3 separate regions of the Homo sapiens genome follow, and regions 1 and 2 are each linked to region 3. Evidence: fine-mapped expression QTL. A gene starts in region 3. Each other region holds a variant in brackets. All regions are shown on one strand. Distances are from middle to middle.

Region 1 (10,821 bases), 350 kb after region 3:
GGCCAGCCTGGCTGTCAGTTGGGGATTCCACCTTTCTGCTGAGCGTCTTCTCGGAGCTGGAGGCCCATCTTCAGTGAGAGATCACAAAGCGGCCAGGCAGGTGGGAGACTGAATTTGCCTTGTTCGAGAGTAACGTTTGAAAACCAAAGAAATAAAGTGATGCAGTGCCCACAGTGCTTGGTCTCTGGTATTTGTTTTGCCAGGATGTGATTGCCCATTCCCATGCTCCCCTTTGGCTTAAGGGGACAAGAGTGACCTTCTCTTTCTCGATGGGATGCACTCAGGTCTAGAGCTTGGGGGATGAAAAGAGTTATTCTGGGGACTCTGAATTGGATCTAGAAGTGACCTTGGGTGCTTTTCCAGCTGAAGGGTGGGGCTCTGGCTACCTGGAAATGCCCTCCCTCCCATGGGAGAAACCTGGCGTTCCCAGGTGGGGAAGGGGTTGCTGCCACCACAGGTTGGCTCGACAGGGGCCCACTGTGAGGCTGGCCCTGGGCCATGGAGGCCAGGCCAGCACCTGGAGTCAAGTCTGTGCCAGACATTCTATTTAGTCCTTGCAATGTGCTCGGGCAGGTAGGCCCAGTCCTGTGACTGGGACACTCTAAGGACACAGCCTTAGAGTGGCTAATTTGCATGCTCCCTCTGTCTGGTGGGACAAGGGTGAGGGCAGCCTGCTGTAATGAGCAGCAGCAGGGATGTAATGGGAGCTTTAAGCCCAGGCCTTTGCCTGTTTGGTGAGGGAGGAATCATTAGGGAAGAAGTTCCCGTAGGCCCTTCTTCTGTCTGGGTTTCCTGCAGTGGCTGGCATCCTTGTGCTCCTGGGGAGTCATTCTTGCCTCTGCTTTTTATTCACCCCACATCCAATCCATCAGCAAGTCCTATTGACGCTGACTCCAAATGATACCCAGAACCCTCTCTCCACTCTACTGCCATTGTCTCTCCTGGCCCACATCACAGCTTCCTACCCCATCTCCCTGCTTCCCTGCTTCCACTCTTGCCCCTATACCCCTATACAACCCATTATTTTTATGATTTTTTGAGACAGAGTCTCGCTCTGTTGCCCAGGCTGGGGTGCAGTGATGTGATCTTGGCTCACTGCAACCTCCACCTCCCAGGTTCAAGCAATTCTTTGCCTCAGCCTCCCAAGTAGCTGGGATTACAGGCACCTGCCATGATGCCTGGCTAATTTTTGTATTTTTGGTAGAGATGGGGTTTCACCACCTTGGCCAGGCTGGTCTTGAACTCCTGATCTCGTGATTCACCCACCTCGGCGTCCCAAAGTGCTGCAACCCATTATTTTTATTTATTTATTTTTTGAGTCAGAGTCTCTCTCTCTCACCTAGGGTGGAATGCAGTGGCACAATCTCAGCTCACTGCATCCTCCACCTCCTGAGTTCAAGCAATTCTCATGCCTCAGCCACCCATGTAGGTGGTATTATAGGCACGTGCCACCATGCCTGGCTAACTTTAGCCTTTTTAGTAGAGACGGGGTTTCACTATGTTGGCCAGACTGGTCTCGAACTCCTGACTTCAAGAGATCTGCCTGCCTCGGCCTCTCAAAGTGCTGGGATTATAGACGTGAGCCACCATGCCTGGCCCCTATACAACCCATTCTCCATAGAGCAGTGAGAGAGTTTATGAAATCGGATTTTCACTTTCCTGCCTAAAATGTGTCCGTGGCTTCCCTTTACTCCTAGAATTCCTTGTGCTGCTTTACAAAGCCCAGACAATCTGTCCCTGACTCTGCCTCTTGCTCCATGCTGGCCCTAACCCACCACGCTACAACCATACCAGCTGCCTCTGGTCTTGAACACTTGTTTCTGCTCTAAAGGCCCTTGCATTTGCTGCTATGGTCTAGAATGCTTTTCCCTGTCATATTTACATGGCAGACTTCTTACCATTCAGATCTCTGAGGGTCACCATCACACCACAGTTTTCATTCTCATGGTGTTTACTCCCATCTGATGTTTCTCTTGTTTATTTGTTTATTTGATTATTGCCTACCTCCCCAGCAGAATGTAAGCTCCATGAAAATCTGGGCTTTTCCCTGACTTGCTCACACCACTGTGTTCCCAGCAGGTAGATTCGTTCCTGGCATCATAGGTGCTAAAATGTGTTGAAAGAAGGAATGAGTGAAATGGGGTCTCTATCCCTTTCCTGCTGTTTTCCTTTGGGATTTGGTTTTATCAGACATAATCCCCCTTCCTCCATATTTCTTGTGGACCATTTTTCTGCATCCCCACAGCTACCCCCTAATCTATACCAGCATCTGTTCCTCATCTTTGATACTGGAACAGTTTTCAAACTGACTCTGCCTCCACTCAAACTATCCTAGTTCTTCCTGACAGGCCAGAATGATCCTACTGAAAGTCTGACTCACTGCTGGATTTCCCGTTGGCCCTCAGTACAAAATCCTAACTGTTTTGAGGCCCACCTGATTCTGGCCCCTACTTTCCTCTCCGGCTTATTTCTCCCCACCAACCCTCATTCAGACTGACCTTTCCCCCTGCATTCTTTTCTCCCTCCCACAAGTGGCATTGTTGAGGCTCTGTACTGAGCCCTGGAGTCTTCACTGAAGCCCCACCACCAATGTAACCATTTGACATTTGATGGAGGGGTTGGACTGGGAATGTTACCATCTGGCCTGCAATAGCCACATATAGCCAGCAGATGGCAATCGGGTGCAGCAACAGACAAAGTCTCTCTCTGGGTTCCCAATCCGCACGCGGCTCTGATTTCCCAACCCCCGGTGTATCCGCCTTACTGCTTTGGCCATCCAGGGTGGTAGCAACTTCCTGAGAACTACCCTTATCGGGGTTCTGGATTCTCCTATTTGCTCTTTTGCCTGAACTCTCAAACCAGAGCAAATCCTCTGATGCCTGGAGGAGTATCTCACAGCGGGGTCTAAAAACCACCTGGATCGCAGTCTCCGTGGGAACTTATTAGGAGCGTGAATTCCAGTGCCCCATTCACACCTGCTGACTCCAACCTGAGACATTGGAGAGGTAGTATATGCACACGGATGAGTTACATAACCTTGCTGTGCCTCACTTTTTCCATCTGTAAGATGGGATTACAGTAATGCCTATAGGATAGTATCCTGCACATAGTGTTAGATAAGCCCAGTTTCAGAACCTCTGGGAGTCTGATTCCTGTTTTCTAGGAGGAAGTCAATACCCATGGATACTGTCGTTCAAGGTTACCCTCTAGGTTAAAGACACTCCTGTCCCAGGACTGAAAGGTGTTTTTGCCAGAGGCTAGCCCTGAGCCCTGAACTCACAGGCAGAAATTTTAGCTTCTGTTGGAAGAAATTAAGATAAAAAATGGTATATCAATATTTATAGATTTGGAAAAGGTTTCATAAGTATGGATAAGTTATTCTTGTGTAGAAAAGCTGTTTCCTTTCTAATCTGCTTAGAAAGGCAGGGATACCAAGTGGTGACCGTATTTGCTAAGAATACTTCATGCTGATTTTTGAAATCAACATCTGTTGAACTTATTTGTATTTTTCTTCACCATTTTCTATCTCTGATGCAGTGTAGAAAGTCCAGTGAAATGAACAATGTGTGAATAAAGGAAGAAAAAAATGTGAGGTTAACTTTGCATCTTCTTCCAACATTCTGTGTATTTGTAATGTAACAAGTTCTTCTAACAATTTTTTTTTTTTTTTTTTTTTTGAGACGGAGTTTTGCTCTTGTTGCCCAGGCTGGAGTGCAGTGGCACAGTCTTGGCTCACTGCAACCTCCGCCTCCTGGGTTCAAGCAATTCTCCTGCCTCAGCCTCCTGAGTAGCTGGGATTACAGGTGTGCACCACCATGGCTGGCTAATTTTGTGTTTTTAGTAGAGACAGGTTTTCACCATGTTGGTCAGGCTGGTCTTGAACTCCTGACCTCAGATGATGTTAAGATTTAACAATCTTAAATATAAAAGCTTCACCTCCCCCCACAAAAAAATCCAGTGAAACATTGAATAATTTAAAAAAATTATCTCCACATTTATCCCCTGGAGGAAGAGGATTTTGGTGGAGATCAACATAAGCTGCTCCCCAAATGTTTCTCTGGAGTCCAGCACTCAGGCCCCAGGGCATTGCTGGTGGCTTCTGGGTCCTGAGCAGCCACCTCATATCCCAACTGCCACTCCTGGATGTCCCACCATTGCCTCATTCTCACTGCCTGCCAATCTGGGCTCATCCCCCCCATTACCCTGGGACACACTTCTCTGAGTATCTTTCACCCCAGTTTCTGCAGCATCAGGTTCTTAGTTAAACTGTCCAGAAAGCTAAGAGTTGTCCTAGAACGTTCTCTCTCCCATACCTCTATCCCAGCAGGACCCTAGAAAAATGGCGGGTTTCACAAGGTTGCACACTGCTGGGTAATCACAGGGAAGAGAATTCCATTGGTCCAGCCCATCCCTGTCCCATCCTTTCCCCTGAGCACAGCTTTCATGCCAGGTCACACCTGAGGCTACTGGACAAGTTTTGGCCAAGGGCTGTGTCGGCCCTGCTCACAAGGGATCTGGCAGATATAATAGGTTCCTATCTAGCAGCCTCTGAGAGGCTGAGCTGTGAGCTGAGGAGACAGAGCCGTTTGTATTCAACTCTTGTCCTCACAAAGCCCTCAGTTTGCAGCAGCCGTGGTGTGACACAGTGTGATAGAGGCTTCCATATGGAATGGGCAAAAAGTGCAGCAGGCTCACAGGAAGCCTATGCTGGCTGATCTGTGTCTGGTACCTTGTGGCCTATTTTCCGAGAATGAGCCAGCTCTTTGAGTGTCGGCTGCCTGGGAGTCTCTGGGAAATGCCTCAGTTGCCCCTCAGGTGACCCTAGTCACTTGTTGTAAAAGACCCATTCCAGTTTGGTGGCTGTCACAGGAGGATGGGAAGCTAGGGGACAGGGCTCGTGCCACCAGGCAGTTGTCAGGATGGGGCTGGAAGGCTGAGAAGCAAAGCCCTGAGAGTGTGTGCAGGGAAGCCTGCTCCTGCCCCTGGCTGTCCGCTTTCATTGGCCTGATATCTCACCAGAACCTTCTCCTAGTGTGATTGCTTCTCCCCAACCCCAGCCAGTGACACCCAGGTTACCTGTAGGGTGTCACTAGTGGGTTGGTAAGTGTTCCCATTGCTAGTTTATCTCATGGAAGAGGAGGAGGGAAGGTTTTAGATAAGAAGCAGCAGAAAGTAGGTTTAATGGTATAAAAATTTTTCCATGTGGCCAGGAGCGGTGGCTCTCGCCTGTAATCCCAGCACTTTGGGAAGCCAAGGCGAGTGGATCACTAGGTCAGGAGTTCGAGACCAGCCTGGCCAATATGGCGAAACCCCATCTCTACTGAAAATACAAAAATCAGCCAGGTGTGATAGCGGGCATCTGTAATCCCAGCTACTCTGGAGGCTGAGGTAGGAGAATCACTTGAACCCAGGAGGCGGAGGTTGCAGTGAGCTGAGGTCGTGCCACTGCACTCCAGCCTGGGCAACAGAATGAGACTC[C/G]GTCAAAAAAAAAATTTTTCCATTAAAAATGACTTTGAAAATAGCATGAAATCCACTTAACTCTAGGAGGTCTTCCCTGCCAGGCAGAGAGCTGGGGGAACAGAGATAGGAGGGCAGCCAGGAGGAGACTGGGCAAGCAGCTGCTCATGTATGACCCTCTGCCTGCGGAGACCACTGGGTTGGCAGAAGGCAGAAAGGTCACAGGGGGTCCTCGCCAATGCCTCACCCCACTCCATACTGCAAGCCCCAGGGCCAGGAGGAGGAGAAGTGCAGGCTGTGGGGTCAGGGAGGTATTTGGGGAGCATCCAGGCTGAGTGGCTTTTGGTTCCCTTTCCTTCACCTGCCTCCCTCCCCCGCTGCAGCTCATCCTGGCTCAGACAGTTGCCTCTGCAGTATGGCAGACTGCAGGTATTGACAGTCAAGATCAGTTTCTAGGCTCCTTAACTGGGCAGAGTTATCTGTTGTCACTTAAGTTAGAATTGGGAGGGTGGGCCGGGCATGGTGGCTCACGCCTGTAATCCCAACACGTTGGGAGGCTGAGGCAGCCGGATCACCTGAGGTCAGAAGTTTGAGACCAGCCTGGCCAACATGGTGAGACCCCCGTCTCTACTAAACATACAAAAATTAGCCGGGCATGGTGGCAGGTGCCTGAAATCCCAGCTACTCAGGAGGCTGAGTCAGGAGAATTGCTTGAACCTGGGAGGCAGAGGTTGCAGTGAGCTGAGATTGCACCACTGCACTCCAGCCTGGGCAACAGAGCGAGACTCCATCTCAAAACAACAACAACAACAACAAAACCAAAAACAAAATTGGGGCACAATGGCACATGCTTGTAATCTTAGTGCTTTGGGAGGCTGAGGCAGGAAGATCGCTTGAAGCCAGGGGTTCAAGGCTGCCAGTGAGCTATGACTGAGCCACTGCACTCTAGCCTGAGTTACAGAGTGAGATCTTGTGTCTAAAAATAAGAGAAAAAAAAAGGCCAGGTGCGGTGGCTCACGCCTGTAATCCCAGCACTTTGGGAGGCTGAAGTGGGTGGATCATTTGAGGTCAGGAGTTCGAGACCAGCCTGGCACACATGGTGAAACCCAGTCTCTACTAAAAATACAAAAAATGAGCCAGGCGTGGTGGTGCATGCCTGTAAACCCAGCTACTTGGGAGGCTGAGGCAGGAGAATTGTTTGAACCCAGGAGGCAGAGGTTGCAGTGAGCTGAGATTGTACCACTGCACTCCAGCCTGGGAGAGTGAGACCCTGTCTCAAAAAAAAAAAAAAAAAAAGAAAAGAAAAAAAGCTGGGTGAAGTGGCTTGTACCTATAACCTGTAATCCCAGCACTTTGGGAGGCCGAGGCAGGCAGATCACAAGGTCAGGAGTTCGAGACCAGCCTGGCTAAGATGGTAAAACCCCGTCTCTACTAAAAGCACAAAAATTAGCCAGGCATGGTGGTGCATGCCTGTAGTCCCAGCTCAGGAGGCTGAGGCAGAAGAATCACTTGAACCTTGTAGGAGGAGGCTGCAGTGAGCTGAGATTGTGCCACTGCACTCCAGCCTGGTGACAGAGCGACACTCTGTCTCCAAACAAACAAAAAAACCTCGAATCTAATACCAAACAAACAAAACACACACACACACAAACACACACACACACAAAAGAAAAAAATAGAATTGGGACACAACAAGGGAGGCATAACTGAGTTGCATGGCAGTATCCAGGACAGGGGCTGATGGCTGCAGGATCCACTGATCCTCAGAGCTCATCTTCATGGAAATAGGAGGGAGCCAAGTATCTTTGACTTGTGTTTTCTTTGTTTTGCTTGTTTTTTAGACAGAGTCTTGCACTGTCGTCCAGGCTGGAGTACAGTGGCACAATCTCGGCTCACTGCAACCTCCGCCTCCTGGGTTCAAGCGATTCTCCTGCCTCAGCCTCCCGAGTAGCTGGGACTACAGGCGCACACCACCACGCCTGGCTAATTTTTTGTATTTTTAGTAGAGACGGGGTTTCACCGTGTTAGCCAGGATGGTCTTGATCTCCCGACCTCGGGTGATCTGCCCACCTCGGCCTCCCAAAGTGCTGGGATTACAGGCATGAGCCACCTTGCCTGGCAAGACTTTGGTTTGTTTGTTTATTTATTTATTTATTTATTTATTTATTTATTTATTTATTTATTGAGACAGAGTCTTGCTCTGTCATCCAGGCTGGAGTGCAGTGGCACGATCTTGGCTCACTGCAAGCTCCACCTGCCGGATTCACGCCATTCTGCTGCCTCAGCCTCCCCAGCAGCTGGGACTACAGGCACACGCAGCCACGCCCGGCTAATTTTTTTGTATTTTTAGTAGAGACGGGGTTTCACCGTGTTAGCCAGGATGGTTTCGATCTCATGACCTCGTGATCCACCCGCCTCGGCCTCCCAAAGTTCTGGGATTACAGGCGTGAGCCGCCTCGCCCGGCCTAAGACTTTGGTTTTTAAAGTCAGTTTTTCTTCAGCCAGGAATATGTTAAGAGAGGAAACAGGGAGGCAATGTTGTTGTGGGGCAAAAAGGAGCAAGACTGCCTTTCCTGGATTTCCGAAAGGGCCTCTCAAAAGTCTCAGTGCTTACCTGGGTATGGTGGTGCACTCCTATAGTCCCAGCTACTTACCGGGAGGTAGGGGGCTGAGGTGGGAAGATCACTTGAACCCTGGAGATCGTACCACTGCTCTACAGCCTGGGCGACAGAGTGAGACCCTGTCTAAAAATCAAAAGTTGCAGTGAATGAGCAGAGAAGATGGATGGGGAGAAGAAACTGAGGCCTATAGCCTGGAAAAACCCCATGCGAGTAGGATCTTGATACAGCCATTTGGCCCTCACACTCTAAGGTCCAAAACCATTTAAAATGTTAGCTTCTGGCCAAGCGCGGTGGCTCACATCTGTAGTTCCAACACTTTGGGAGGCCAAGGTGGGAGTATGGCTTGAGTCCAGGAGTTTGAGACCAGCCTGAGCAACATGGTAAAACCCCATCTTTACGAAAAAAGTTAGCCGGGTGTGGTGGTGTGCACCTGTAGTACCAGCTACTCAGGAGGCTGAGGTGGAAGGAATACCTGAGCCTGGGAGGTCGAGGCTGTAGTGAGCTGTGATTGTGCCACTGCACTCCAGCCTGGGTGACAAAGTGAGAGTGAGACCCTATCTCAAAAAAGTAAATAAATAAATACATAAATATTAGCTTTCTTAAAATTGCCATGTCATGTGCCTAGCTCGGAATTGGCTAGGATGGAGTATTCACACCACAGGAATTGGCAAGTCCCACCAATCGGCCAGACGTGCTGGAGCCCTACCCGATAGAAGACTCCTCCCTATGTGTTTATGTAGCTGGGTCTTGCCAGTCCTTCAACTCAAAGTAACGTCACCCGCTCAGTGAGGCCCTCCCAGACCCCATCTCAAGTTGGTCTCAGTCACTGTTGCCACGTCCTTTCACTGTTGTCATCACCATTTCAACAGTCGTTTTCTGGGTTATTGTCCTTTTCCTCAACCTGAAATGCAGGAACAGAGGCCCCCAGAGAACAGGAACTCGTCTGACTTGTCTACTGCTTATCCCTCTGGCTAGAACAGCGCCTGGCACATAGTAGGTGCTCAAAAAATAGTCACTGAATGAAGAAGTGAGTGTGTTTGGAGCGGAAGGCTGAGTGTTTCCGCCTAGGTCCTGTGACAGAAACCCCTGTGTCTGTTCTCATGTAAAGGCCGGTCAGCAGGGTGAGAGGGAGCCGGTGCCTGTACTGACCTGCTCTTGGTCAGGCCAGACTAGGGATGAGACAGGAGCGAGAGGAGGAGGCAGAGGCAGAGAATAGTCCCTTTGGTCTGGAAGCTGCTGAACTGGATGGGAATGAGCCGAACCCATTGGATCCTTGTCTTGGGGATAGAATTGCCACATTCGGCAAATAAAAATAGGGACTACGCAATTAAATTTTAATTTCAGATCAACAAATAATAGATATATTTTTTGCCCTTGTTGCCCAGGCTGGATTGCAATGGTGTGATCTCGGCTCACTGCAACTTCCACCTCCCAGATTCAAGTGACTCTCTTCCCTCAACCTCCCGAGTAGCTGGGATTAGTGTGCCACTATGCCTGGCTAATTTTTTTTTTATTTATTTTTTTTATTAGAGACGGGGTTTCACCATTTTTGTCAGGCTGGTCTCGAACCCCTGACCTCAATTGATCCACCCACCTCGGCCTCCCAGAATGCTGGGATTATAGGCGTGAGCCACTGTGCCTGGCCAACAAATAATAATTTTTTAGTATGTATATGCTCCATGCAATATTTGAGACATACTAAAAATTATTCATTATTTACCAAAAATTCTGATTTGATTGTATTTTCTCTGGCAACCCTACCTGGGGAGTCAGTGGTGTGCTAGTAAGTGCTCCCTGGGTCCTCTGCTCTCATTAGCTTCCTCTACCCTCCCCACCAGTCAGCTTTCTCTGGGTTGTGAGAAGATGGCAGGGGATGCCCCCCCAGCTCCATCTTCATCCCCATGTGTCCAAACAGACCTGAGCAGCTTGAGTGTTGTTCTTCTGAGTAGCTTTCATCTGAGGCCTGTGTAGAGCAAGCTGTGGGCTGGACACAGACCTCACCTGCGGCTCAACATTACAATTACATGGGTGCTTTTAAGATTGGCTCTGCCCAGGCCCGACTGCACACCAATTAAATCAGAATCTCTGCATGGTCTCATTAACCTGCCCTATGGTTTTAAATATCTCTAGATACTCCTTTTTATGAGACAGAGTCTCACTCTGTCTCCCTGGCTGGAGCAGCCTCGACCTCCTGGGCTCAAGCGATCCTCCTACCTCAGCCTCCTGAGTAGCTGGGACCACAGGTGTTCACCATTACTCCCAGCTAATTTTTTTTTTTTGAGACACAGTTTTGCTGTTGTTACATAGGCTGGAATGCAATGTTGTGATCTCGGCTCACTGCAACCTCTGCCTCCTGGGTTCAAGCGATTCTCCTGCCTCAGCCTCCTGAGTAGCTGGGATTACAAGCACCCGCCACCACGCCCAGCTAATTTTTTGTATTTTTAGTAGAGATGGGGTTTCACCATGTTGGCCAGGCTGATCTTGAACTCTTGACCTTAGGTGATCCACCCACTTCGGCCTCCCAAAGTGCTGGGATTACAAGGGTGAGCTACTGTGCCCAGCCATGCTCAGCTAATTAAAAACTTTTTTTTTTTTTGTAGAGACGGGAGTCTCAATATGTTGCCCAGGCTGGTCTTGAACTCTTGGGCCCAAGTAATCCTCCTGCCTCCCAGCCTCCCAAAGTGCTGAGATTACAGGCATGAGCCACCACACCTGGCCAGGATATTTCTAAACATCTCTAGAA
Region 2 (10,821 bases), 120 kb after region 3:
TAACAATTTAAACTACTATCAGGGTTATATAGGTGAAAAGGTTGTGAATATATAGTCTGTTAATTATGATAAAGTGCAACCATATATAACAGGAAATCTAAAATAATTGTGGCTTACACAAGGTAGCATTTTTTTTTTTTTTTCAACAAAAAGGAAAGCTGGAGGTAGATGCACCTAGCAGGTAGGGCAGTTCCAAAGGTGTCATCAAGGACTAAAGTTTCCATCCTTCCATCCTAAATATACTTTATACACGCTAGAGCTCTAGCCATCATGCCTGAATTGTAGGCAAGAAGGTGGGGTAGGAATTTAATTTAAAAAAGGGATCCCACACAGCTGACACTTTTCTTTTTAAGCAGCCTTCCTGGAAGTCCCACAGAATTTAAATCACCTGGCCTGGCTGCAAAATAATGTAATTGTTTATTCTGAGCTATAATTTTGGTAGCAAAAAAGTTGGCTATCTGTTAATACAGAGGAAGAGGGAACATGGATCTTGGAATAGGCAGCCAATATTCTCTGCCATAGCAGGGGACAAGAGACCTTTGCAAGAGCAGTGGGGTCAGTAGAAGGATGTGAGGTGATGTGTTGAGAAGGAAGCTCAGAATTAGTGATTTTACAGGTGCATGTATGGACTTAGTGATCTTGTTTTCTTTACCACATTAAGCTTGTTTGGTGCTCCATAAATGGGTGACTGCGTGCCCAACATCTCCTGTTAAAGGATCTTGCAGACCTTTTTTTTTCCCCCTCCCTTTGGCTATTTCTCCAAGTAAATAAATATTAGAAAATATCAGCTCTTTTTCATCTTCAGGGAACAAGCCACTCAAGAAATGGTCAGTTTTTAAAATTGCTGAGCAGAACCTGCTATAGATATTTCCAGTATGGAGAAGAGAAACACTTGGATTTCTGATTTGTGTATGTTTACCAAAACAGATTCTAAGATATAAGAAAAATATTGCTAGAGTAATATTTTCTTTTATGCAGCTAGCATAGTGAGTCCAAGAGTTTATTTTTATATTCACTGTGTTTCACATAGGCTTGATTATAATAGGCTATTGGTGTTGTTGAATGGATGATTGAATTATTTCTGAAGCCTGTATGAGGTAGACTGTGGTGATATTTAGAAGTTAAAGGCAGTCTATGGTTTAATGTAATAAAACATGCTTCATAGCTAGTAAAAAAGCTATCCCTTTTATAATATATAGTGTATAGATTATATAATTAATATAAAGCCACAATAGCTTTATTACTAATTTAAAATTTAACTCCTAAGAACACTTCAGCAAAAACACAAAAATAGATTCACTTAAAAGCTTTTTAAAAATAACTTAGCCCAAAACACCAAATAAGTCTAGTAGAGTTTTGCTGCTTTAAATGTAAAAAGCAGCATTTTACTCTTAGTATTTAAAGGCGACTCCTTACCTTCTTGTAGCACTTTGTCTACTGCAGAATGTGCATGATTTTGCCCTAGTTATGGTGACTGGATTCTCATCCTCTCAGTAGGATCAATATTAAGCTAGCCTTCTTTACCTCCTCGATCCATATTAAACCTGTCTTGGAAAGAGTCTGTTTATTGGATAATATAGCTACACCGGGGCTCTATGACAATATCTTTTGCTGCCTCATTAACTCTCGAGCATTAGAACAAGATAAAAATGCCCTAAAGCCTCTTATCTGATGTCTGGTGTAACCTGCTGTAAGCAGGATTGCCATTAGTTTATGTTAGAAATCAAATGACCCTCTCCAGTGCAGGAAGTACTGATTAAACCTGAAGTGTCCCCGGAGGACTCTACAGCTGTCAGAGGGGTGGTGACTGTCCGTCACGAAAAGGGAAATCTGGGCCAGAGGTCCCAGTGGGGCGGTGCTTTAAGAACCCGCACGTGGCTGCCCCAGCTGTTCTGCTTTGCCTAATGAATTGTTTTACAAGAAGAGGCTGGGTATTATCATCACAAGCTGCCTTCCTTAGGGACTGGAGCAGGCCAAATAATAAGTAATGTTAGTGATGGTAATTGAAATGTGATGGCTCTCCTGAGATCTTTATGGCCCTGGAGCTGGTTGGCACTTGTGGATTGCCTTGTCCTAGCAAGTGCCTTATTTTTTTTCTGTTTTGTAATACCGTTGTGTGCGTTTTTCTCTTCTGTCCCCCATGGAAATTCATTAATAAAAGCTATCGTAGGAACATTACAATGATGTTAACTACAAAAGGAACAGTTTTAACTTTTTCATTTCAATTATCAAACACTGTAATGGTAAATAAGTGGTTTCTGGAGGAAACCACTGTAAAGATCTCTCTGTGCTTTTAAAGGAATATGTTAAACTTATACAAATAATACAAGCTCTTGATTTTAAGAATATTTTAAAATAACATGAAAGGATATAAAGTGAAAAGTAAAATCCTTATCTGCTGAATTTATGAGCGGTAACTGCCACGAACAGTTTCTCCATGGATGCTTCCAGACATTTTCTGTACATAGTAAAGTTTATATACATTACCATACACAGATGCAATCATAATATACATACTGTTTTGTGACTTATCTTTGACCCCACAACATGTCTTGGATATCTTTCCACAGCAGTATACATAGATCTGCTTCACTGTTTTCCAAATGCTTCATAGGATTTCACTATATGGATGTACCAATTCAAGACTCTTTGTAGATAGTTTGACTTGGACCTTATAAATGAAGCCTTACCATACAAGCAGGTTGCATCCACTGACTTGTGTTCCATAGTTCAAACTCTGCTTTTACATGAAGTGATTTTCCTTACTTCAGGAATGTTACATTTTAGTCCAGTATTGTTTTAAAATAGGAAATTCTGGAGGTAAAGCTTTTAGGGGGGAGGTAGTGTGAGTCTTGTCATGCATCATTAGCCGGACATATGTGTAGTGATATGCACCCCACTGTGTGCTTTTAATTTGTTGCTTAGTTAAATGAGAAGTATTCTGTCCCAGATAGGTGGGGAAAACAAATAGCCTTTGATGAGTGTTGTCCAAGGCACTGACTGGCGGCTTCCTCTAAAGTTGAATGAGTGTTTTCTCCCCTAATTTTCTACTTCAGAAGTTCCAGGAATCAAGTTTTGAACGCATTAATGGACTTGGGAAATGATTTGTCAGCACGTGGAAATGAGGACTTAGGTTTCTTGTGTAACAGCTTGGCTAACAAAGCAAGTTTGTGCCTCATGAACTTTAAGGGCCTTGCTGGGAGTGGCAGTGTGATGAATGAAGCAAAGCAATTTTCCAGGAGCATTTCAGGTCAGTGATAGGAGAAATCAGTTGTCTTCTCAGTCAAACAGAAACTTAATTTTAGTTGCATCTGTCTTAATAAGAGAATCTGTATGCAAATTGAATGGTAGAAATTCCACATCTGCCAAAGATGGGAGCATTGCAAGTCTTTTTTTTAACTCGAAGCTCTTTAGTCCCATTCTCAACACTTCAAAATTGAGGTTTGACCAAATATTGAAGAGATGTCATACTACTAAATTGCAAAATGCAAACTAGTTTTGTTTCAGACTTTTTATACAGTGCTTTTCTTGTCCTTGATGTTAGTCATTTGAATTGATGCCCAATCTTTAATTTAATAATTGGAGGCTATTATTAATAACAATAACTGATTTACTTCTTGTCCAAGCCTTTATTAGATTCATGGGATGTAGGTATACAGAGATTTCTGGGGCTGTTCTGGGCTATTGGAGATCTTGTAGACCTAAACTATTCAAAGCAGTAGCCACTAACTGCATGTGTTTGTTTGAAGTTAAATTAATTAAAAATAAAATTTAAAATCTAATTCCTCAGTCACTCTAGGAAATGCTCAGTAGCCATGTGTCGCTAATGACTACCACATTGGACAGCACTGCTCTAGACCAAAGGTCAGCAAACTATGGCCTGCAACCTGTTTTTGTATTCTCTGAGCTAAGAATGTTTTTTACGTTTTTATGGGGGCTGTAAAAGTAAAACAAAAACAAAAAACGGAAGAATCTGAAACAGACTGAATGTGGCCCACAAGCCTAACATAACATCCTTACGTCCCATTCATACTTATGTTATGTTAGGCTTGTGGGCCACATTCAGTCTGTTTGGTTCTTTACAAAAAACCTTTGCTCAGCCCTGGACCTATGCTTCCTCTTGGTGACGTTTTGGCTTTCTGATCAAATTGGGTTAGGACTTTCCATAAGTCATCAGAAGACTAAATCTAATAAGCAAATAGACAAATTTCAGATAAAGTTTCTTACTATAGATAGACTATGGAATGAGTCCAGAGCATACACAAATCAGTTCCCTGAAGCTAGGACAAGCGGGATGTGCATTTGAAATAGGAAAATAGTTTATAGTATAAATTATCAATTTCCTACAAGCTTTGTGCATAACACCTATAGTTTAACAGAACATCTTTCTTATTTTGTACACTATTTTGTGTCTTCTGTGTTCTATACTCTCCTATCTTACTCTGACAGAAACAGAATGAGCCTGGGCATAGTGGCTTATGCCTGTAATCTCAGCACTTTGAGAGGCCAAGGTGGGAGGATCACTTGACCCCAGAGTTCGAGACCAGCGTGGACGACATAGAAAGACCCTGTCTCTGCCAAAAAATACCAATAAAATTAGCCAAGTGTGGCAGTGTGCCCCTGTGGTCCCAGCTACTTGGGAAGCTGAAGTGGGAGGATGCATTTGAGCCCAAGAAGCAGAGCCTGCAGCGAGCTGTGATTGCTCCACTGCACTCCAGCCTGGGCAACAGAATGAGAAGCCTCTGTCTCCACATAGTCCGCCAAAAAAGCAGATGCACTTTTTAACAAAGAATTTACTGTGAAGTTTTTTTTTAACTATACAAATTATAATTTTTTCATATTTTTAATTGATACATTATAATTGTACATGTTTATGGGGTACAGTTTGACATTTCAATTCACATATGTTGTATAAAGATCAAATCAGGGTAGCTAGCATATCTATTACCACATGCATTTATTATTTCTTTGTGGTGAGAACATTCAAAAGCCTCTCTTCCAGCTATTTCATAATATGTGATACCTTACTGTTAACTAGTCACCCTGCTGTGCAACAGAACACCAGAACTCCTGTATAATTGTAATTTTGTGCCTGTTGACCAAACTTTCCTCATCCTCCTCCCCTGCCCTCTTCTCCCCTCTTTCCAGTTTCTGGTAACCACTCTGCTTCTATGATCTCAATTTTTTTTTTTCTTACAAGATTCCACATATGAGTGAGATCATGGCAGTATTTGTCTTTCTGTGTCTGGCTTATTTCACTTAACATGATGCCCTCCAGTTTCAACCATGTTGTCACACATGACAAGGTTTTATTCTTCAATTTTTTTTTTTTTTTAAGACAGGGTCTTGCTCTGTCACCCAGGCTGGTGTGCAGTGGTACAAACACGGCTCACTGCAGCTTCGACCCTGGGGTCAAGAGATCCTTCCGCCTCAGCCTCCCAAGTAGCTGGTGTGGGAGCCACACCCAGCTAATTTTTTTTTTTTTAATTGGAGCCATGGGGGTTGGGAGGGGTCTCACTTTGTTGCCCAGGCTGGTCTCGAACTCCTGGGCTCAATCAATCCTCCCACCTTGGCCTTCCGAAAGGCAGGGATTACAGATGTGAGCCACTGTGCCCAGCCTCAAATTATTTTTAAACCATCACATTATTTCAGTCTCTCCTAGGAAGAATGCAGCAAAAAGATTCTTTTTCTGGTATTCTCAACATCTGAGAGATTGTCTTCCCTTAGCAAATGTAACTCTAACAAATTCTTATTAAATAT[A/G]AGGTCTATGAAATCTACCTATAAAATGAGCACCTGGCACTTCTGTGGTAAGTCAGCTTGTCGCTTTCAAGACAGGACCTTGACATTCATGAGGTAACTGCAAATTTCCAAGTTTGTGATAACTCATAGTGTATCATTTTTCCTCTAAAATGTGGTAAAGTACAGTTAAAAAAATTGTTACCGTTTGGGCCTTTGGTATGAATTATTCTATAATTAGAAGTAAGTAAAGTATTCTCCCACTAAAATAAATGTTACACTGCAATATGTTTAATTACAAATAGAAATGTTAACTGGAACTTGTCTGAATCTTCAAACTCAACATGTCAGATGATCACGGGTTGTGTGGTTGAGATCATGAAGTGTGTACTAAGCCACAAAAAAAGTGACACTTCAACAATAACCTTGAAAACAAGGCACGTGATAGAAGAGATAAGGGAGATCATTGTGAAACAGTATTCTGAGAGGGAACCTTTGTGAAGTGATCGCTTCTTTCTAAAGAACTCTGAGTGGTAGCTGTAGTTGGCTTTTATTCCATGGTATGAAATCAGTGCAGATTTTAACATTTAAAGCTCTATCCATTGATCATAAGCAGTTATGGTGTCAATTAGCTGTTTCTCCATTAGAACGTTGACTAAATGTATGAAAACTCAAAAAAGTTCTTCTAATTCTTCAGTGTCATCCCCTTTGCCATTCTTTGCCAACTCATCTGTGAGTCTTATTGTTTTTTCAGTTCTTCCATATTACTTTTATGTGTGCCCTCCAAACCTTTGCCAACCTCTTGCCTCTCCAGTATTAACAGTGTATTCTTCATTGCCTGTGAAAATAATCTTAAAGTTATACACTGCCTTCTTCCTTACAGTATGCCAGTAAGCATCCACTTTTGTAGATCACCTGATTTGTAGTAAAAGATTCTCTATGGAATCCTTACATAATCAAGGATGTACCTCTTCTAAAGCTGCCTGTTAATAAGTTTGCTATCTTTGTCCATGGCATTTTTTGATGACAATGAAAGTGTGGCAAAGTCATATGCTTTGAGCTTGTCTCTTACAGTCTGGTCGAAAAGTCAGAAGTATTCAGAGGAAGGAACATCACTTAAGGATTTAGAATTGTAAACTATAGTAATTAAAGATAGCCTTCCACATTTTCCACAGTAGGGAGAACTTGAAATTCAAGCTTAGACATTTCTGGCACAAAGTGTTTTGTTTTTTTGTTTGTTTGTTTCTCGGCCCTTCTAAGAGACAAAACATGAAATGTTTTTGAAACCAGTCCAAAACACCTTGCCCTGTGTCTGAGGGTGTTTTTTTCCACTGGACTACCAATATTTGGAAAGACATTCCTTTCATGTCTTGGGGTTTTCAGATTGGTATGGAAAACTTGTTTTTTCATAAAGACTGCAGATTCTATGACGTGAAATAGTCAAGTCTGATCTTAAACTCCCTCATAGAGCTCTGTGAGGATATCTAGGTATTTGCAGGTTTCACCACTGAATTCCCAACATTTACCATACTTGGTACATAATAGATAGGTGCTTACTTTTCCCCTTTCATTATTTTTTCCCAAATCACATTTTGGTCATGAATCCCATGTTTCCTGAATCATCCTCACTGCCTTTTCAGAGAAGTATGTATTTTTCTCTCTATTGATGAACATGTTTGATAAAAGCTGGGATACTTGTTAAAACGTTCCCACACACGGCTGGATACATTATGGAACTATTCATGTCATATATCTGTGCCAACCATAAGAAAAATATGCCTTCCAAATTCCTTTAGTTCTCTTCAGTTTCCATAAAATGTTATTTTTATCATGTGTAAGAGTACTGTTAGGGAATCTCGTAGCCATGGTGGGATGCAGGTACTGGGTGGACCACTAGGTTCACTAGCCAGCTAAGTGAATTGCTCTTCCAGTGTGTGCTGTTCAGATTTGTTCCTAAGCAAAATTGCAGATAAACTCCTGTGTTACATTGACTTTCATGCCTTCATAGTAGAAAGCCCACAGATATTAAAGACTTGAATTCAGGTACTAGTAACAATTATAGATTGATTGTTCAGAATACCTTGGTTTCCTTCTTAAGCATAAAGTACAGAAAAATCAACACTGACAAGTTAATCCTAAAAATCACATGGAAATAATTGCAAGGGACCCAGAATAGCAAAACAATCTTGAAAAAGAACAAAGTTGAAGGACTTACACTTCCCAGTCTCAAAACCTACTACAAAATTACAGTAATTAAGACAGTGCAGTAGTGGCATAAGGATAGCCATATAGATCAATGGAATATGATTGAGAATCCAGAAATAAACCCCCATATTTACAGTTAATTGGTTTTTGACAAGGACACCAAGATCATTCAATGGGGGAAAAGTAGTCTCTTTCAACAACTGGTGCTGGAAAACAATATCCACATGAGGCCAGGCATGGTGGCTCATGCCTGTAAACCCAGCAATTTGGGACGCCGAGGTGGGTGGATCACTTGAGGTCAGGAGTTTGAGACCAGCCTGACCAACATGATGAAACCTCATCTCTACTAAAACTACAAAATTAGCTGGGCATGACAACGCACCCCTGTAATCCCAGCTACTTGGAAGGCTAAGGCAGGAGAATCGCTTGGATGCCTGAGGCGAAGGTTGCAGTGACCCGAGATCGCACCATTGCATTCCAACCTGGGCAGTAAGAGCGAAACTTCATCTCAAACAAACAAAATATCCACATAAAAAATAAAATAAAATAAAATTGGACCCTCTACCTCATATCATATAAAAAATTAACTCAAAATGGATCATGGACCTAAATATAAGAGCTGAAACTATAGAACATAGGCATAAATCATGACCTTGAATTTGGCAGTAGTTTCTTAGATATGATACCAAAAGAACAAGCTCCATTACAATTAAACACTTCTGTGCTTCAAAGACACCATTAAGAAAGTACTTGGGTAGGACAGGTGTGGTGACTTACGCCTGAAATCCCAGCACCTGTGTTCATAGTAGCATTATTCACAATAGCTAAAAGGTGGAAGCAATCCAAATGTTCATTGACAGGTGAATGGATAAACAAAATGTAGTAGATACATGCAATGGAATATTATTCAGCCTTTACAAAGGAAGGAAAATCTGACACACAACCTTGTGGGACATTATGCTAAGTGAAATAAGCCAGTCACAAAAAAACACTACGTAATTCCACTTATGTGAGGTAATCAGAGTAGTCAAATTCATAGAGACAGAAAGTAGAATGGGGGTTGGGAGGAATGGGGGAGTATTGTTTAATGGTTACAGAGTTTCAGTTTTGCAAGTTGAAAAAGTTCTGGAGATTGGTTGCACAGTGATGCAAACACACTTAATGCCACACTAAACTGTACACTTAAAAATGGTTGAGATGGTAAGTGTTATGTATATTTCACAATTTTAAAGTGGGGGAAGGTGACTTTTATGCTATGTGAATTATATCTCAAGTTTTTAAAAGTTATATGAGAAAAGAAGAAAAAAGAAAACAAAACCTATCTAGGAAGCCCAGAAGATTTGACAGTCTATTATAGGCCTGCTCCTAATCAAAGGCCTTTTTTTAATGTGTAGTGATTTTATATTCCACTTTCCTCAATTCATGAATAAGTCCCTTCTAACTCTCCTCTTCCCTTTATTATTTCGCAAAATAGATTGGAAATAATCTCCTGATCCTCCTCAGTACTTATGTTAACATCTGGGACCCTACCAAAGGTTCACATCTATTTCTTAAGATTTTGATATTATCATAATAAGTAAATATTTATTATGTAAACCAATGTGCTAGACCCTGGGTGTCAAAAATACATAAGCTCCTCTCATGGCACTTACAATCTGACTAGAGAGACAAGGCAAATGTATAAAAAGTTTGATCACAGTACAAGAGAGCATGTACTGATCCACTTGAGGAGCATAGAAGTTGACAGAAATGAGAGATTACAGTAGGCTAAAGGTGTTTGGAAAAAGTCTTATAAAAAAAGTGGGATATAAACGAACAACAACAACAACAAATCCTACATATCAACAGTGGCAAGTTGGTTTCCTTCTTGCTGTAAGATTCCATGTAAAATGTAGTATTTTATATAGCAGTTGCTATTTGATTAACCTGCAAAAATTATTTTTTTCTCATATTCATTTCCCTTGTTAGTATCCCAGTTTGTTAGGTTAGACAGAAAAAAAAAATTGCTTGATTGTCTATTCCTCCACATATAGATCAGTATGTTAAGGGGGCGAAGTAACTTTACATCATAATTTGGCCACTGGGCCATGCAACAGCCTGTCTAGCTTTACCCTGCTAAGCCTAGAAGTGGCAACAAAGAGATAAGAAAGCCACCATCAAGTGTCTGTGGCCTAGTATGAATTTGACCTGCACCTTGACAATGATTTTGATTTCAGCTTTCCATGGTGAATGGATTTACTACCTATCAGAGTCACAAAAACCCTTAATTTTTAAAATATTTTGGGGTTTTTCTTCTACATGTTAAATGTTAACTTCCTGTGACAGGCGGTGATGATTTCTGAATTTTCAGTGGGCACAACTCATTATTGAAGCACTGAAGTAGTTGGTTACTATTGCAGCTAATTCTTATTTAAATGAGCAAGAGTTCTTTGGAAAGATTAGGCAGCATGGTTTTAAAAATTCACAGCAACACTGATGTATATCAGTTTTGGCTTGGCAGGCTTTGACCCAGGGCCGTGCAGTGTTTTATAACCCTCAGCTACATAAGGACACATACTTATAGCATCACTTTTGTAGTGGATATTTTTATAACTCTACAAAACGATTAGACTGACGTAAAGCAATTCTCTAAATTCATAGGTATTAAAATATTCTGGCAGCTGTCTCCTTTTTGCCTTTAAGTTGAGACATCATGATGAGATAAGACTGCACCAGGCCTGATCGGTACATGAATGAGGTTATGCGTGGTATTCTCACATTATTGACAAGGGTCTTTGTCACTATAAATAGGAGAAATCTTTGGGGAGGGGTTGCCATTATAGTAATTCCGATTCAATTCCAGCAATATTCTTGTTTTTCATAAACTTTTTTCCTTCAAAA
Region 3 (10,821 bases):
GAGTCACTGTGCCCAGTCCAGGTAAGTTTTCTTAGAGAACTTTTAGTCTGTGGCTCTGTTGGGATGGACAACTAATAAAAATGGGATATTTTGCAAATAAAGGAACAGTAGTTAATGATTATTTGTAGGCATAGTGGTGCACGCCTGTAGTCCCAACTACTTGGGAAGCTGAAGTAGGAGGATCTCTTGAGCTCAGGAGCTTAAGTTCAGCCTGGACAACATAACAAAACCCCATTTCAAAAATATATGGCCAAGCATAGTGGCTCACAACTATAATTCCAGCACTTTGGGGGCCTGAGGTAGGAGAACCATTTGAGCCCAGTAGCAACAGAGTGAGATCCAGTCTTTACTCCCCCCCCCCACAAAAAAAAGTTAGCTGGGCATGGTGGCACAAGCCTGTGCTCCTAGCTACTCAGGAGACTGACATGGGAGAATTGCTTGACCCCAGAAGGTTAAGGCTGCAGTGAGTCATGATTGCACCACTGCACTCCAGCCTGGGTGACATAGTGAGACCCTGTCATTCATTAACAAATAAATAAACAAATAATTATCTGTGGTAACATATCTTGTATATAAGTAAAACATTGAATGTTTTAAATTTTTAAAAATTTATCTAAAAGTGATAAGATTAAATCCTTGACCGCCAGGATTTCTTAAAATGCCCCTGCAGAGATGTGAACTAGTCTTAATATCACGAGAAAATGTCAATTTAGTAGAATTCTATATTTGCAGCACATGCAATAAAAAAGCAGGATGAAAGTAACTCCTGGCCAGGTGTGGTGGCTCAAGCCTGTAATCTCAGCACTTTGGGAAGCCGAGGCAGGCAGATCACTTGAAGTGAGGAGTTCAAGACCGGCCTGGCCAACATGGGGGTGAAACCCTGTCTCTACTAAAATACAAAAATTAGCCGGGCATGGTGGCAGGCATCTGTAATCCCAGCTACTCGGGAGGCTGAGGCAGGAGAATTGCTTGAACCTGGGAGGCAGAGTTGAAGTGAGACAAGATTGTGCCACTGCACTCCAGCCTGGGCGACAGAGCAAGACTACCTCTCAAAAAAAAAAAAAAAGAAAGTAACTCCCATAAGAAACAGTTTGGATAATAATATATTTATTCAGGATTCTAAAGGCTATGTAGAAACAAAATCTAAAGTTGTTCACTTAGACTGATCCACCTATAAAGTACCATCTGCTATAAGGTGATCTCAAGAATGATTTATGAAGGGAAACATGGCCTCTAAGGTAAACCCGAATAAAGTTATAGATGAATTTATAAAGTAAACCCAGTTTTGGACCTACTAGAAGAAAAAAGCAGAAGTACTACCCACCCCCCGCCCCCCCTTTTTTTTTTGAGAAACAGTCACACCATTGCTCAGGCTGGAATACAGTGGCACGGCTCACTGCAGCCATGATCTCCCTGGGCTCAGGTGATCCTCTGAACTCAGCCTCCTGAGTAGCTGGAACTACAGGTACATGGCCACCACACCCAGCTAATTTTTGTATTTTTTGTAAAGACAGGGTTTTGCCATGTTGTCCAGACTGGTCTTGAACTCCTGGGCTTAAGCAATCCGTCTGCCTTGGCCTCCCAAAGTGTTAGGATTACAGGCATGAACCACCATGACCAGCCAGAAATTCTATCTATTTTGATACATAATAGTTCTAAATTTTATATATGGCTTGTTGGACAAAATTAACATCACTTGGCAAAAAACAGAGAATTAAATTCAGGAAAAAAAGAAAACCACCATTCAGGAACATTTGAAATACATTTATAAATTTAAGCTAGTGGAGATATTACCTTACATCTGGATACAAGTCCTACCTAACAGCACCATAATGATCTTGTCTGTATGAGGATTCAGCCAAGACACTCCACATTTCTTTGTTGACCAGGAACAAGGAAAACTGGACAGAAAAAGAATTACAAAACCAAGTCAACAAAACATGAAGTGGCTTATTCCAAGTTTAAAAGCATTAGTGTTCTAAACAATGAAACAAGGAAAATTTATTTAGTAATAATTCCTGGAACTTCATAGTAAAGGCACCTACCAGTAACTGTGGAAGGAAATGCTACCAGATAAACTACTAAATAGCAACTTCCTACTCTACTATCTGTACTATCAGTTGTTGCTCACCAGCAGATGACAGTAACAACATCCAGTTCTTTGGTAGAAAATGAGGGGATTCAGAAGAATGTAGACTCTATATCCACCTCTACCAGAGTATGAAATCTTGGCATTTCCCTGAGCCATATTCATGTCACAACAGCTTTATCTACAAAATCAAACTTAGTCAATAAAAAATATATATAATACAATAAAATAAACTAGGCCAAGTGTGGCGACTCATGCCTGTAATCCCAGCACTTTGGGAGGCCAAGGCAGGAGGATCACCTGAGCTCAGGAGTTCAAGACCAGCCTAGGCAACATGGCAAAACCCTGTCTCTACAAAAAATACAAAATTAGCCAGGCATGGTGGTGCATGCCTACAGTCCCAGCTATGCCAGAGGCTGAGGTGGGAGGATCACTTAAGTCCAGGAGGTCGAAGCTGTAATGAGCCATGATCCTGCCACTGTACTCCAGCATGGTTAAGAGTAAGACCCTATCTCAAAAAAACCATCAAAAAACCCAAAAACCAATAAAAGAAACTATAAAGTACTATAACTAAGGTACTACGCATACATTAATAATCTTGTTATAGTCAAATTTTTATGTTCATACATTAATCTGTAAGCCTATGTTCAAATGAGGAGTCTTGGACTGACTTTCATATTATAAAGTTACCAATTTCTAGAATAAATTCCAAATATACAGCCTGTGACAGAAGATGCCCTACTCTCTTTTCTGCAGCTTATCAACAGTGTGCTTTTTCAGAACCTTACACATACAAAATTAATGGTAACTTTATAGATTTTACATCAGAGATAAACTCTTCAATATATGGCGATTCCGCCTATGGACTCACGGGAGTGTGAAAGTATACCAGAAATACACTCAGAAAAAGCTATGATCGGCCAGGCGTGGTGGCTCACGCCTGTAATCCCAGTACTTTGGTAGGCCGAGGCGGGCGGATCACCTGAGGTTGGAAGTTCGAGACTAGCCTGACCAAAATGGAGAAACCCCGTGTCTACTAAAATTACAAAAGTAGCCGGGCATGGTGGCGCATGCCTGGATTCCCAGCTACTCGGGAGGCTGAGGCAGGAGAATTGCTTGAACCTGGGAGGTGGAGGCTGCGGTGGGCCGAGATCGTGCTATTGCACTCCAGCCTGGGAAACAAGAGCGAAACTCCATCTCAAAAAAAAAGAAAAGAAAAAGCCATGATCATGCTGGCAGATGGTATGTATAATAAGGTTTACGCCAGCCTGACCAACATGGAGAAACCCTGTCTCTACTAAAAATACAAAATTAGCCAGGGATGGTGGTGTGTGCCTGTAATCCCAGCTACTCGGGAGGCTGAGGCAGGAGAATCGCTTGAACTGGGAGGTGGAGGTTGCGGTGAGCCGAGATCGTGCCATTGCACTCCAGCCTGGGCAACAAGAGCAAAACTCTGTCTCAAAAAAAAAAAAAAAAAATTTTACAGCCGGGGGCGGTGGCTCATGCCTGTAAATCTCAACACTTTGGGAGACCAAGGCGGGTGGATCACCTGAGGCCAGGAGTTCAAGACCAGCCTGGCTAGCATGGTGAAACTCTGTCTCTACCAAAAATACAAAAATTAGCCTGGCATGGTGGCACGCACCTATAGTCTGTTACTGGGGAGGCTGAGGCAGGAGAATTGCTTGAACCCGGGAGGCAGAGGTTGTGGTGAGCCGAGATTGCGCCATTGCACTCCAGCCTAGGCAACAAGAGCAAAACTCTTGTCTCAAAAAAAAGGTTTACAGCCGGGGCGGTGGCCCACGCCTGTAATCTCAACACTTTGGGAGGCCGAGGCAGGTGGATCACCTGAGGCCAGGAGTTCGAGACCAGCCTGGCCAGCATGGTGAAACTCCATCTCTACCAAAAATACAAAAATTAGCCGGGTGTGGTGGCATGCACCTGTAGTCCCACTTACTGGGGAGGCTGAGGCAGGAGAATCGCTTGAACCAAGGAGGTGGAGGTTGCAGGGAGCCGAGATGCCCCACTGCACTCCAGCCTGGGTGACAGAAGACTCTCTCTCAGAAAAAAAAAAAAAAAAGTTTACAAGGCTTATCATTACCAAATCGGCATGTTCCCTCAGAAGAAACAGAAATTCAGAAACAGAAACTATGCAAGTGGGAAACAAGGCGGAGGGGAGTAATTAGAGGTCAAAGACATCGGGAAGGAGTGTACGGATTAAGTCCTCCCTAGAGAAATGGTGACGAAGGATCTACAACCACATTTAAAATAAACTTTTTAATTTGAAATGGAGTATAACAGAGCAGAGCTTCAACCACAAGTCTCCTAACTATTGGCTTGGCACTCAGAATACCGTACCTTCCTTAATGACTCACTGACTGACTCTCATTGAAAAATGAGAATACTTGTGAGTACACTCCTTTTCAGAGGTGTATTCGGGATTTCAGGAGTCGGGGAGGCAAGTTGAAGAGCTTCCAACTTTATGCAACTTTCAGGAAAGAAGGCTGCGGACCGGTATTAGCAAATGGAAATCCGGGGGGCGGTCGTGGGCAGGAAGTATCGGCCACACAGGACCTAGTGAGGCCGAGGACCCTGCTCCCGACCTCGGTGGCAGCACTCCCCTCCCCGCCCGGCTCCCTGGCGTGCCGCTGCTCTTCGGAGGCTGGCAGCCTCGCCCTCAACCACCGCCCTCGGGAAAGTCCTCGACTGCCTATCAAAAAACATTTGGCCTGGGACGTCCGCTGGCTGCACTATCCCTTACAGAATCAGCAAGGGTGAAAAGCCAGGAAAGAGATGCAACCCAAAGGAGTAAGGCAGTGCCGGGAGCGGCAGAAGCGGAGCGGGGGCGAGGGCAAGGTAGCCGCGGCCACGCTGGCTGCGGCATGGAGACACGGGAGGAACGGGACCCGCGGGCGGCACGGGAAAGGGCTGCGGCTCAGACCACTGCGGCGGGACGGGCGGATCAGCGGGGATCTAAGTCTCCTGAGGCAAGGGCGCCCCGACCGCAGCGACTCCTGACACACCCAGGCCGCAGGACGAAGCGCTACCGCCTGGGGCTGCCAGCTCCCGCCTCCCGCCCGCAGAGCCCGGGCCCCACGTAGAGGATCCGGCGCCGCCGACACTCGCACACTCACCGCGCGCGCGCCACCCTTGCGCGGCAGCCCGCCGCCCTCGGCGCGACCTCCGCCCCACCCCGCGCGCCGCGGCGCCTGGGCTACGTCACGGGCGCGTGCGCTCTCCGCGCGCCGTCAGCGGCGCGGGTGGGGCATTGCCAGCTCGGCGTCCCGGTTCCCTTGGAGACAGAGCTGGCCAGGGCGGCCGCGGCTGGGCAACTACGACAGCGGAGCCCCTGGGGAAGCCAAGATGCCGTCGAAGGGAAAGGACAAAAAGAAAGGCAAGAGCAAAGGCAAAGACACGAAGTAAGGAGAAGCCACCCGAGAGTCCCCTCTCCCTGGGCCTGCCTGGGATTTCGGGTCTGGGGCTGGCAACCTGGCGCCCCCCGCGCCGGCCCACTCGGACCCTCTCCCCGGCTCTCCCGGCTTGTGAGGATTACAGCTCCCATGTCCATAGTCTGGCAGATCTCTACTATGTGTTCAGATTATCTTAAACGTGTAGAGGATGTATAAAGTAGTTCCTTGGGCCTTTTCAGAGATCTCTTTTGGTTCAAAGGGGACACCTAAAGTATTTTACCAAGTTGGATAATTATTGAGGTTTTCCCAAACTGATCAGAGCCACTGAGGTGGGTAATGTTCTAGCACTAACCCCTTACAGGCCTGGAGTTGCTGCTAGATTGCTACTAGCCCTATTGGGGGACCCCGGTGGTTTCTGGACACGTTGGAGTCATACGTGGTGTCCAGCAACAACACCATATATGGGAACACAGAGTTGGCACCAAACTTGAGATGTTTGTAAAGTAACTTAAGAGAGTAATTCATGCTCAATACAGAAAGTTTGGGAAACATGGGAAGTACCAAAAGAAAAAACAAAAATCACCTGTAGTCTCATTATCCAAAAATAAACACTACTATATTTTGGAGTATTCTTTTTTAATAAAACGATAGCCCAATGTACATACTTATATGTGGCTTTTTTCTTCCCATTTGTTAATGTAAGTATTCTTTTATGGTATTTTTTTTTTGTTTTTACATAACTGCACAGTTAGTCTAGCCCTTAAAGTGCCAAGGGCTTATCACATTCCTAGAACTCACTAACATATGTTTTCAGATTTTGACCATGCTTCTACAGTACACATTTGAACAATGAGGAACACTAAGGGTAAGAGACCTTATTCCTTGGATTTTCCATGACCCATTGTTTGAGAAACCTGGCTTTGTTTCTACAGTGAGTATCAGTGGTCCTATTAGAGTGTCTAATTTCTTGCATCAAGTACTTTTTTTTTTTTCTTGACACCAAGTTTTGCTCTTGTTGCCCAAGCCGGAGTGCAATGGCACGATCTCAGCTCACTGCAACCTCTGCCTTCTGGGTTCAACCAATTCTCCTGCCTCAGCCTCCCGAGTAGCTGTGATTACAGGCACCCGTCACCACGCCCAGCTAATTTTTTTATTTTTAGTGGAGACAGGGTTTCACCATGTTGGCCAGGCTGGTCTCGAACTCCTGACTTCAGGTGATCCACCCGCCTCGGCCTCCCAAAGTGCTGGGATGACAGCCGTGAGCCACCATGCCCTGTCGCATCAAGTACTTCGAGCCACTCAGACCTGATACCTGGATGGTCGTAGTGAGACAGTGTATCACTAGTGCCTAAATCATGCCAGAAAGGGACATCAACAGCTATAACAGGCTGAGGGGTTGGGAATGGAGCTGGCCTTAATTTGAAGAGAACAAAAGGTGAAAGTGGGACTTTGGTTCTCTCCACTGCAAACCCATTACCTCTGTGGAAGAGGACTGAGAACCAGAGGTAGGAAAGTGGATGTGGAGGGTGGCAGTATAGAAAGGTCCACATGTACATATGTGTGAAAATATTTAGAATTCAAATACAGGTGAAATATTCTTAAATATGTACATATTTATATATCATGGTACCTACCATATATAAGGGGGAGTGTTTTGTTAATGCTTATACAATAAATATTTAGAAAAATCTCTTCCTTTACCACTTTAATCTTTGAATCCATCCTTTTTCCTCTCCACCTCTATATAAATGATTATGGTTTCTCAGGCATCCTTAAAGCCCGGTGGGTGGGGCATCGTGGCTCATGCCCAGCACTTTGGGAGGCTGAGCAGGGGAAGATCACTTGAGCCCAGGAGTTCAAGACCAGCCTGAACAACATAGGAAGACCCTGTCTCTACAAAAATTTTTATTAAAAATTAGTTGGGCATGCTAACTCATGCCTGTAGTCACAGTTACTTAGGAGGCTGAGGTGGAGGATCGTTTGGGCCTGGGAGGTTGAGGCTGCAGTGAGCTGTGATGGTGCTACTGCACTACAGCCTGGATGACAGAGCAAGATCTTGTTTCAAAAAAAAAAAAAAAGTCCGGTGAACTGTGGCACCAGCTGATAAACTATTTAACGTATTTGCCCTAGTGACTTGACTTTTTGTCCAAGACCTAGCCCAAAACAAAACAAAACAAAAACACCATCCTGGCTAACACGGTGAAACCCCGTCTCTACTGAAAATACAAAAAATTAGCCGGGCCTGGTGGCGGGCTCCTGTAGTCCCAGCTACTCGGGAGGCTGAGGCAGGAGAATGGCATGAACCTGGGAGGCGGAGCTTGCAGTGAGCCGAGATCACGCCACTGCTCTTCAGCCTGGGTGAAAGAGTGAGACTCCGTCCCTCCCCCAGAAAAAAAAAAAACACACTCAAAAGTGGAGGGTAAAGTGGGTGGGAGATCACAGTTATACTACCAATGGGTATCATCATGCAGAAACTGAACAGAGATAATGGGTTTGCAGTGGAGAGAACCAAAGTCCAGCACTGAGTGAGTAGGAATAGAAAAGATAGTTTAACTACAGGAGAATCAGGCTAGGGCACTGGTTCACACCTGTAATCTCAGCACGTTGAGAGGCCAAGGTGGGAGGATACTTGAGCCCAGAAGTTGGAGACCAGCATAGGCAACATAGTGGGACCCCATCTCTATTAAAAAAAAAATAAATATGGGAGAATCAAATAAGTAAATGAAAAGGTATAAAAACTGCCCAAGCGCAGTGGCTCACACCTGTAATCTCAGCACTTTCGGAGGCTGAGGTAGGAGGATCACTTGAGCCCAGGAGTTCAAGACCAGCCTGGGCAACATGGCAAAAACTCATTTCTACAAAAAGTACAAAAATTAGCTGGGCATAGTTGCATGAACCTGTAGTCCCAGCCACTTGGGAGGCTGAGGTGGGTGGATGGCTTGAGCCCAAGAGGCAGAGGTTCTGGGGAGCCGAGATCGTGCTACTGCACTCCAGCCCGGTGACACAGCCAGGCCCAGTTTCAAAAAGAAAAAAAAAAGATATGAAAGCTTTCTGAAATGAGTTTGGCTTATCCTGTCTTTTCCCTTTGTTTTACCAGTCTTTTCGAGTTATGCTCCAGGACTCCCCTCCTCCAGGAAGAGGCACTTACTTAATTATCTTATGTGAATACAAGTGAATATGTATTTCTTTTTTTTTCTTTTTTCAAATGTGAATATGTATTTCTTATTAACTTATTCTTCCAACAATATTTGATCATGTGTGCCAGGCAATGCCAAGCAAAACAAATAAAAAAAGAGAAAAATTTAATAGTAATATAATAGAGTTATATACTATCTGCATATTAGAGTTGTATAAATAGTCATATACTGTCAATATCCTCTTCCCATGCAGGAAGTTAATAAAAACAGATGAATCTGTGGTGGACAGAGCCAAGGCCAATGCCTCCCTTTGGGAGGCCAGGTTGGAAGTCACAGAACTCTCTAGGATTAAGTATCGTGATACTTCACGGATACTGGCAAAAAGTAATGAGGACTTAAAGAAAAAGCAATGTAAAATGGAGAAAGACATAATGTCAGTATTAAGTTACCTGAAGAAGCAGGATCAGGAGAAAGATAATATGGTAGGTAGGTAGAAAGCCTCCTTGGCCTCATTAACTACCTCTATGGTGATGCTGATGTGGTTATGTATTTCAAAGATTTTTAATTCCTTGAAATCTTAACATATACTTAAGACATTTCAATTGACCTTAACTCTGTTTGAAGCAAGACACTTTTTCAGAATGGTTTTACTGTTATCGGCTCTCTTTTATTTTCAATCCTTGTTGCATGTTTTCTTGTCTGAAGCAAACAGAGATTGATGATCATAAGGGAACTTTATGATCTACTTTATTTTAAGGATAAGAGCATGGTATGTGATCTATATATTTTTTGATGCTGATTTTTAGTTTTAAAAATTTGTAAAGCAGTTCACTGATAATCCATGATAACTTTCTGAACCCAGCAAGTTGAATCTTTATTTTTATTTTTGGCCAGTTGAATCTTGTATCTTATTGTACCTTATTAAAGTGTTGAGAGTAAAGCTATCATTTTATATTTGGAAGAAAAAAGGAGGCCGGGTGTGGTGGCTCACGCCTGTAATCCCACCACTTTGGGAGGCTGAGGTGGGCAGATTGCCTGAGCCCAGGAGTTCGTGACCAGCCTGGGCAACACAGTGAAACCCCGTCTCTACTAAAATACAAAAAATTAACCGGGCATGGCTGCATGTGCCTATAGTCCCAGCTACTCGGGAGGCTGAGGCAGGAGAATTGCTTGAACCCGGGAGGCAGAGGTTGCAGCGAGCTGAGATCATACCATTACACTCCAGCCTGGCAGCCTGGGCGACAGAGCGAGAGACTCCATCTCAAAAAAAAAAAAAAAAAAGAAAAGAAAAGAAAAAGGGAAGGGAACTAACATTTTGGAGCCACTACAATGTACTATACTGGGTGCTTTACCTCTCTTGATTCTTTTACTAACCTCCTATTTAATTATTTTTATGACCCCATGTAGCTATAATATTGTTATTTCCATATTACAGATGAAGAAATTGACTTTCAGAAAGGACAGGTAACTTGCCCAAAGTCACACCCCTAGTGGGTGTTAAAAGTGGAAATTCAGGCTGGGTGTGGTAGCTCATGCCTATAATCCCAACACTTTGGGAGGAAGAGGCTGGAGGATAACTTAGCTTAGGAGTTCAGGACCAGCCTGGGGAACAAAGCAAGACCCAGTCTCTACACAAAGTAAAAAATAGCCAGGCGTGGCAGTGTGCACCTGTAGTCCCAGCTACTCGGGAGGCTAAGGCGGGAGGATCACTTAAGCCCAGGAAGTTGAAGCTGCAGTGAGCCATGGTCATGTCACGGCAGTCCAACCTGGACATCAGAGCAAAACTCTGTCTCATATTATTATTACTTTATTATTATTTTTGAGACAGGGTCTCTCTCTATTGCCTGGTCTAGAGTGCAGTGGTATGATCACGGCTCACCACAGGATCGACATCCGGGCTCAGATGATCCTCCTGCCTCAGTCTTCCAAGTAGCTGGGACTACAGGCACGCACCTCCATGCCTGGCTAATTTTTTGTATTTTTGGTAGAGACAGGGTTTCGCCATGTTGCCCAGGCTGGTCTTGAACTCCTGAGCTCAAGTGATCCACCCGCGTTGGCCTCCCAAAGTGCTGGGATTGCAAGCATGAGCCACCATGCCTGGCTGATTTTTTTGTAGTTTTTGTGGAGATGGGATTTCGCCATGTCGCCCAGGCTAGCCTCGAACTCCTGGGCTCAAGAAATCCTCCCA

The links. PIP is the estimated chance that this variant, and not a neighbour inherited with it, causes the effect.
Region 1: its variant is fine-mapped to the expression of BBOF1 in subcutaneous fat (GTEx, PIP above 0.99).
Region 2: its variant is fine-mapped to the expression of BBOF1 in whole blood (INTERVAL, PIP above 0.99).

The regions. Positions count from the first base shown.
Region 1 is chr14:74,359,836-74,370,656 of GRCh38, forward strand. It overlaps VRTN (vertebrae development associated), which reads left to right. Exons shown (of 2, transcript NM_018228.3): 2 at 1-173. Among named protein-coding and RNA genes, the nearest start is that of VRTN, 17 kb to the left of the region's middle. The variant C/G (reference allele first, on the strand shown) is at 5,479.
Region 2 is chr14:74,138,808-74,149,628 of GRCh38, forward strand. All of the region lies in intron 5 of LIN52 (lin-52 DREAM MuvB core complex component), which reads left to right. It overlaps LOC105370563 (a long non-coding RNA gene), which reads right to left and starts at 3,754. Exons shown (of 3, transcript XR_944024.3): 1 at 1,417-3,754. The variant A/G (reference allele first, on the strand shown) is at 5,761.
Region 3 is chr14:74,014,030-74,024,850 of GRCh38, forward strand. BBOF1 (basal body orientation factor 1) reads left to right here and starts at 5,320. Exons shown (of 12, transcript NM_025057.3): 1 at 5,320-5,505; 2 at 8,887-9,115. The coding sequence starts at 5,450. ENTPD5 (ectonucleoside triphosphate diphosphohydrolase 5 (inactive)) reads right to left here and starts at 5,259. Exons shown (of 16, transcript NM_001249.5): 1 at 5,221-5,259; 2 at 1,795-1,901. RefSeq lists silencers at 4,617-4,911, 4,827-4,896, 4,937-5,076, 5,087-5,156, 5,187-5,436 and enhancers at 7,717-8,011, 7,777-8,071.